Linked DNA regions of Homo sapiens. The protein of the gene in region 2 interacts with the protein of the main gene of each other region in a pairwise test. Each region holds a gene or a part of one and is shown on either strand. Other genes may lie near its edges. The genes, in order: UNG and PLD2.

Evidence for each region.
Region 1: the proteins of PLD2 (region 2) and UNG interact in binary tests that used the Homo sapiens proteins (3 or more experiments, as listed by UniProt).

What each region holds. Positions count from the first base shown.
Region 1 is NC_000012.12:109,104,036-109,107,852, reverse strand, and holds part of UNG (uracil-DNA glycosylase), read right to left. Parts: intron 1-3,817. UniProt on the Homo sapiens protein: Uracil-DNA glycosylase that hydrolyzes the N-glycosidic bond between uracil and deoxyribose in single- and double-stranded DNA (ssDNA and dsDNA) to release a free uracil residue and form an abasic (apurinic/apyrimidinic; AP) site.
Region 2 is NC_000017.11:4,813,353-4,817,169, forward strand, and holds part of PLD2 (phospholipase D2), read left to right. Parts: intron 1-1,065; coding exon 1,066-1,149; intron 1,150-1,280; coding exon 1,281-1,359; intron 1,360-2,123; coding exon 2,124-2,234; intron 2,235-2,411; coding exon 2,412-2,582; intron 2,583-3,189; coding exon of another isoform or gene 3,190-3,228; exon of another isoform or gene 3,229-3,267; coding exon 3,268-3,394; intron 3,395-3,584; coding exon 3,585-3,703; intron 3,704-3,723; coding exon of another isoform or gene 3,724-3,793; coding exon 3,794-3,817.

The DNA.
Region 1 (3,817 bases), on a different chromosome or scaffold from region 2:
AAAATCTCGCCACAAAAATGGAATAGTTGGCCGGGCGTGGTGGCTCACACCTGTAATCCCAGCACTTTGGGAGGCTGAGGTAGGTGGATCACCTGAGGTCAGGAGTTCAAGACCAGCCTGACCAACATGAAGAAACTCCGTCTCTACTAAAAATACAAAATTAGCTGGATGTGGTGGTACATGCCTGTAATCCCAGCTACTCAGGAGGCTGAGGCAGGAGAATCACTTGAACCCAGGAGGGGGAGGCTGCAGTGAACTGAGATCACGCCATTGCACTCCAGCCTGGGCAACAAGAGTGAAACTGTCTCAGAAAAAAAAAAAAAAAAAAAAAAAAGAGGAATAGTCAGTGGCCAGGTGTGGTAGCTCACGCCTGTAATCCCAGCACTTTGGGAGGCCGAGGCAGGAGGATCGTTTAAGTCCAGGAGTTCAAGAGCCAGCCTGGGCAACGTGGTGAAACCCTGTCTCCACAAAAAAAAATACAAAAATTAGCCAGGTGTGGTGGCGCACGCCTGTGGTCCCTGCTACTCAGGTGACTAAGGTGGGAGGATTGCTTGAGCCTGGGAGGTTGAGGCCGCAGTGAGTTGAGATCAAGCCAGTGCATTCCAGCCTGGGTGACAGAGCTAGACCCTGTTTCAAAAGAAAAAAAGCAATAGTCATACATCACCTAATGACAGGGATGCATTCTGAGAAGTGTGTTGTTAGGCAATTTCACTGCTATCCGTACACCACAGGGCATCTTTACACAAACCCAAATGGGATAACCTACCACTACACACCTAGGCTATATAGTGTAGCTTATTGCTCCTGGTCTACAAACCTGTGTAGCATGTTACTGTACTAAATACTATAGGCAACTGTGACACAATGGTAGGCATTTGTGTATCTAAACATAGAAAAGATGCAGTAAAAATATTTTTTATATATATATATATACACATATATATATACGTATATATATATGTGTATATATATATATGTTTTTTTTTTGAGATAGAGTCTCACTCTGTTGCCAGGCTGGAGTGCAGTGGCATGATCTCAGCTAACTGCAACCTCTGCCTCCCAAGTAGCTGGGACTACAGGCACACGCCGCCACACCTGGCTAATTTTTTGTATTTTAGTAGAGACAGGGTTTCACTATGTTGCCCAGGCTGGTCTCAAACTCCTGAGCTCAGACAATCCACTCGCCTCGGCCACCCAAAGTGCTGGGATAACAGGTATGAGCCACCACACCCGGCCAGAATATTATAATCTTATGGGACCATCGTCATATATACAGTTTATGACTGAAACATCATTATGTGGCAAATGACTACTTTGATTTTTTTAAAATATCAACTATAGTTATTTTAACAGGGAGATATAGACCATTTTTGTTTTCCTCTTCTTTTCTGTATATAAAAACTAACGAACAAATCACTGTTTCTCAAAACACTCTTGCCTTCAAGGGGCTCAGTCCAGGAGGGGCGATGAGGGGTGAGGACTAAAGCCAGGCAATCCAGTGTGGTTAAGAGTACAGAGCCTGGAGCCAGACTGCCCGGGGTCGAGGCCTACCTCTACCCTCAGTAGCTGTACCACAGAGAAGTTGCTGCAACTCTAAGCTGCTTCAGTTTTCATCTGTAGACTGGGAATAACAATACCGCCCAGCTTATGAAGTTACTGTGACCAATCAAATGAGGATCACAGGGGCTGAGTGTGATAAGAAGTCATGCACACCAAATGCTGAACACACACGCAAGCAGCACAGGCCCCTGTAAATGTCAGCCCTGCAGAGCTCTAAAGAATCCCAGAAGAAAATGACCTCTACACTGTAGGCAGAGAAAGCAGGATATGCAAAGGCAGGGAAGTGGGGCACCGTGAAAAAGTAAAGGGGAATGGGTCAGCCTAGGGATCGGAGTGCAAAGAGGGATAGAGTTAAGTCTGGGAGGCCGATTGGGGGCCACCCCTCTACCCCCCTGAAATCAGATCTTCAGCCTAAGGCAAGGCCTTCCAGGGAGAAAGCATCAGAACCCTCCAGGCAAGATCAGGTGAGGGCCTGAATGAAGGCAAAGGTGGTCAGGCAGGGGTAGATTTGGAGGGGGAAGAAAGAACACAGATATGAATGACTGACTGACTGGGAAGGTGGAAAAAAAGGACAGAAGAGGGGAGAAAGAGAGGTAGGCAGGTGTCAGTAATAGATCTGGCTGGACAACTGGGCAGATGATGGTGCTTTTTGCTGCTAGGGAGTGCAGAGGAGGAAGTTTAGTGAAGCATGGATGAGAAAAGGAGAAACTTCGTTTGGAAAATGTTGAATTTGGCATGTTCATGGGGCAGTAGTAACAAGGCACTCTATAGATCAGAAGAGACACTGGGCTGGAGATATGCAATTTGGCTTTAATGACCAAGCTACTTTAACAACTGTTTACTTTCAGACCAAACCATGATTAAAGATTACCAATATACTGCGGAAGAGCAACACTGGCCGTAAACCTCCCTAAGGGATAGAGATTAGCAATTACTCTCACGCACACTTCTTACATACCTAGATGATCACATCTTAGCAGTTCATACCAGTCAGATCTTAGGTCACTCATACAAGTGTATGCCTACCTCAAAGCCTTTCTGAGAGTTAAGTAAGATTCTGCATGCAAAGTACTCAACCTGGTCGGGTGCGGTGGCTTACATCTGTAATCCTAGCACTTTGGGAGACCAAGATGGGAGGATCGCTTGAGGTCAGGAGTTCAAGACCAGCCTTGTCAACATGGTGAAACCCAGTCTCTACTAAAAATAAAAAATATTAGCTGGGTGTGGTGGCAGGCAACTGTAATCCTAGCTACTCAGGAGGCTGAGGCAGGAGAAGTGCTTGAACCCAGGAGGCGAAGTTGCAGTGAGCCGAGATCATGCCACTGCACTCCAGCCTGGGTGACAGAAAGACTCCATCTCAAAAAACAAAAGTGCTCAACCTAGTACCCACACAAGGTAGGGGTTAAATATACGTGCACATTTCTGATACCCCCGTTACCTCCTGCTGATACACCAAAAACTATTGTCAGGTTACCTCTGCTAAGCCCTTGCCTTCGATCATTGAAGCATTTACTCTATAATTTCTCCCCCACCCAATGTCTCTCCCATTTGCCAGGGATGAACACACCCCTGGCTCGTCTCCTTCCCACCCCCTATCTCTCCCTCCTCCACTCTGCGGCTCTCCATCAAGCCTCCATCTCTAGTCCATCACGGTTCTCCTGGAGAAAGATGATGGTGACTCATGCCTGAAGGGCAGCAGTGGCGAATGAGAAGCAGTAGACTGGGGTGTTTTGGGAGGCAGAGTTGATGGGATTTACTGATGGGATGGAGGATTCAAGGATGACTTTTAGGTCTCTGATTTCCACAACCAGGTGTAGAAGTGCTTCAGTGAGTGAAGGGAAAGAGGGAGGTAGCAGATAGGGGGAAGATGTAGGGAGGGGAGCCACTGGTTTGGTCGTGTTGGGTATCTGCAATTAGACCTTGGGGTTAATAATGATCACCGATAGGCCGGGTGTGGTGGCTCATGCCTGTAATCCTAGCACTTTGGAGGTTGAGGAGGACAGATCGCTTGAGGTCAGGAGTTCAAAACCAGCCTGGCCAACATGGTGAAACCCTGTCTCTACTAAAAAATAAAAAAAAATCAGCCGGGTGTGGTGGCGGGCGCCTGTAGTCCCAGCTACTCGGGAGGCTGAGGCAGAATCACTTAAACCCAGCAGGCGGAGGTTGCAGTGAGCCAAAATCATACCACTGCACTACAGCCTGGGCAACAGAGCGAGACTCCATCAAAAAACAAAAAACCCAGAAACAAAACAATAAT
Region 2 (3,817 bases):
TCAACATAAATGAGATCATGCAACCTCTTCTGTGACTTATTTTTTCACTTAATACCTGTGTGAGAGATTAGACACTTATATTATTTCCCATTTTTCACTCTTACAAACAATGTGATGAACACAACATTTGCCTAGGCATTGTATTAGATGTATTCCTAGACATGTAATTACCATGTATATTTAATGATATTAAAGGGTATATGCATTTAATATTTTGATACTGCTGACCAGTCGCTTTGGCTCATGCCTGTAATCCCAGCACTTTGGGAGGCCGAGGCGGGTAGATCATTGGGGTCAGGAGTTCAAGACCAACCTGGCCAACATGGCAAAAACCCGTCTCTACTAAAAATACAAAAATTAGCCAGGCGTGGTGGCGGGCGCCTGTAATTTCAGTTACTTGGGAGGCTGAGACAGGAAAATTGCTTGAACCCAAGAGGCGGAGGTTGCAGTGAGCCAAGATCATGCCATTGCACTCCAGCCTGGGTGACAGAGCGGGACACCATCTCCAAAAAGCTATATATATATTTTTTGATACTGCCAAATTGTCTCCTAAAAGTTATATTCCCATAGTCTATGAGAATACCCACTTCCCCAGCATATTGAATATTGATATTGAATGTTACCAGTGATTTGAATTATTACCAATCTAATGGATTTTTTAAATGTAATTTCATTTTAATTTCGTTGTTTACTAGTGAAACTGAACATTTGCCACGATTGGCCATTTTAATTTCTCTGTGAACTGTCAGTTCTTACTCTTTGCTCATTTTTCAGTTGGCTCATGTGACTTTTTCTTGTCGATTTATTGGTGTTCTTTATGTATGATGTATTAATCCTCCTGTTCTTTAGTTGATTAGGTTATTGTGTCTTTTTGTAATTTTTATTTGTATTTAGCGCATATGGGCAAACACTATTTTGATGTGTCTGATACCACTTGTGTTCTCTGATCATTTCTGATCTTTGACCTTGCTGTCACCTCTGACCCACGACTGTCCTCCGGTCTTCACTCTCCAGAGCTTTCTGGCTTCTGACTCCCCTGACCTCCTTGGCTTGGCCTCCCCCCAGGTTTGTGAATGGGGCAGGTTACTTTGCTGCTGTGGCAGATGCCATCCTTCGAGCTCAAGAGGAGATTTTCATCACAGACTGGTGGTGAGTGGGAAAAGGCCCCAACAACATGGGGCAGGATAGAGCCTGGGGCAGATCAGCATTAGGAGGAGAAGGGGGGTGCAGCTGGTGGTCTGGGGCTTCGTTTGCCCCTAATCCACTGCCCTGAATCCCAGGTTGAGTCCTGAGGTTTACCTGAAGCGTCCGGCCCATTCAGATGACTGGAGACTGGACATTATGCTCAAGAGGAAGGCGGTGAGGAGAGTGGTCAGGCCGCAGGGGGAGGGGGTTGCCTGTGGGTGGAGGTTGATTAGCAGGGCTGCAGTGTGGGAGAATTAGGCAGTCTGAGGCTTCAGGGGAGGGAAAAGTGTCCATCCTGGCCCAGCACCTGTCAGACATCACCTCCGCCCTCTCCCTCTGCCCTAAGGAGAACTGACAACTTCCTCTTCATGCTCCCTCCACCTGGCAGAGACTTCCCTCCCAGTATACATAATACTTTATTGTGTTATCTGGGGGTATACATGTCTATCTCTCTCACTGGACTAGTTAATATCACTGTTCCACTACAAGGCACAGTACCTGCCATGGAGGGGGCATGTGTGGTGTTGATGGACAGGAAGAAGGATGCATGGATGATGCAGGGTGGCTGGGCAGGTGGATGGATAGAGGACAGAAAGGGTGATGGATGGAAGGATATGAGTTGGAAAGGTGGAGGGCTAGGAGGGTAGGCAGGTAGATGGATGAATGATAGACGGTACATAAAGGGATGAGTAAATGCTTGGGAAGATGGATGGATGGATGATGAAGGGTGGGTGGATAGATGTGTGGATGGGTGAGTGGGTGAGCACACAGATGACATTTAGTCTAAGTCTGTGGCAAGCAGCAAAGCAGGGCATATGTGGCAGAGCCTCTAGGATCTCCAGACAAGCTGGAGGGACACACGTGGAAAAGGTTTGGGAGTGTGGAAAGGGGCTACTCTGGGAGAGGCACTAGGATCTGATTCCCCAACTCACCACCAGGAGGAGGGTGTCCGTGTGTCTATTCTGCTGTTTAAAGAAGTGGAATTGGCCTTGGGCATCAACAGTGGCTATAGCAAGAGGGCGCTGATGCTGCTGCACCCCAACATAAAGGTGACTCTCGGCCTCAGAGACCCTCCCACATGACAGCCCTTCTCCCCACACTGTCCCAGCCCCCAGCGCTCCCGCTCCCTGATGGTCTCATCTTTCCATCTTTCCTCTCTCCCTCCCAGTACCTCCTGTTTTCCTTCACCTAAACCCACCCTCATGAACCCTCCATGCCTGCTCCAGGTGATGCGTCACCCAGACCAAGTGACGTTGTGGGCCCATCATGAGAAGCTCCTGGTGGTGGACCAAGTGGTAGCATTCCTGGGGGGACTGGACCTTGCCTATGGCCGCTGGGATGACCTGCACTACCGACTGACTGACCTTGGAGACTCCTCTGAATCAGCTGCCTCCCAGGTAATCCCCCTGAGGCCTTCCTGAGCACCCCCAAACTCAGATAAGCTCAATCAACACCATTTCCCAGCTCCAGCCTTACCCCCTCAGTCATTCCAGGCCCTGCCAACCTCAGGGTTCCTCAGACTTTCTGGGACTCCAAGAACCCACTTTGAAAGTGCTGTAACTGGCCGGGAGCCATGGCTTATGCCTGTAATCCCAGCACTTTGGGAGGCCAAGGCGGGTGGATCACCTGAGGTCTGGAGTTCGAGACCAGCCTGACCGACATGGTGAAACCCTGTCTCTACTAAAAATGCAAAAAATTAGCTGGGCATGGTGGCAGTTGCCTGTCATTGAAGCTACTCGGGAGGCTGAGGCAGGAGAATCACTTGAACCCAGGAGGCGGAGGTTGCAGTGAGCCGAGATTGTGCCATTGTACTCCACCCTGGGCAACAGAGCGAGACTCTGTCTCAAAAAAAAAAAAAAAAGTGCTGTCACCCACCCAGTCCTTTCCCCATTTTCACTGACCATCACCCCATTCCTCTAAAAGTGTCAAAGGCAACTGGAGGGGAGGGCTGGGGAATCAGACCCTCTGTTTCATTCTTCCTCTCGGTCTCTCTCACTCTTTCAGTGCTCCTCTCTTTGGCCCTGGCTCTGTACAGCCCCATGACTTCCCCTTGCCCCTGGCTTGGGTGTGTTCCCCCTACAGCCTCCCACCCCGCGCCCAGACTCACCAGCCACCCCAGACCTCTCTCACAACCAATTCTTCTGGCTGGGCAAGGACTACAGCAATCTTATCACCAAGGACTGGGTGCAGCTGGACCGGCCTTTCGAAGGTGAAGCCTCCCACCCGCCAAAGCCCCAGAGAGCTGAGAGCAGGGTCAGAAGCTGGGGCTGGTACTGAGAGTGGGATGAGAGGGGTCAACGGTGGTACAGCCCTCCCTCTGGCAGGCTCTTTCTCCCTGCCCCAAGTGTCCCAAGGAGTCCAGCCCTGACATCTCCCCTGACTCTCCTGGGACCCCCCAGATTTCATTGACAGGGAGACGACCCCTCGGATGCCATGGCGGGACGTTGGGGTGGTCGTCCATGGCCTACCGGCCCGGGACCTTGCCCGGCACTTCATCCAGCGCTGGAACTTCACCAAGGTGTTCATTCCCTCCGATAGGGGCTGGAGGTAGGGAGGGAGCCAGGGCAGATTGGCACCTCCTGCTGACTCTGCCATCCCTCCACGTCAGACCACCAAGGCCAAGTACAAGACT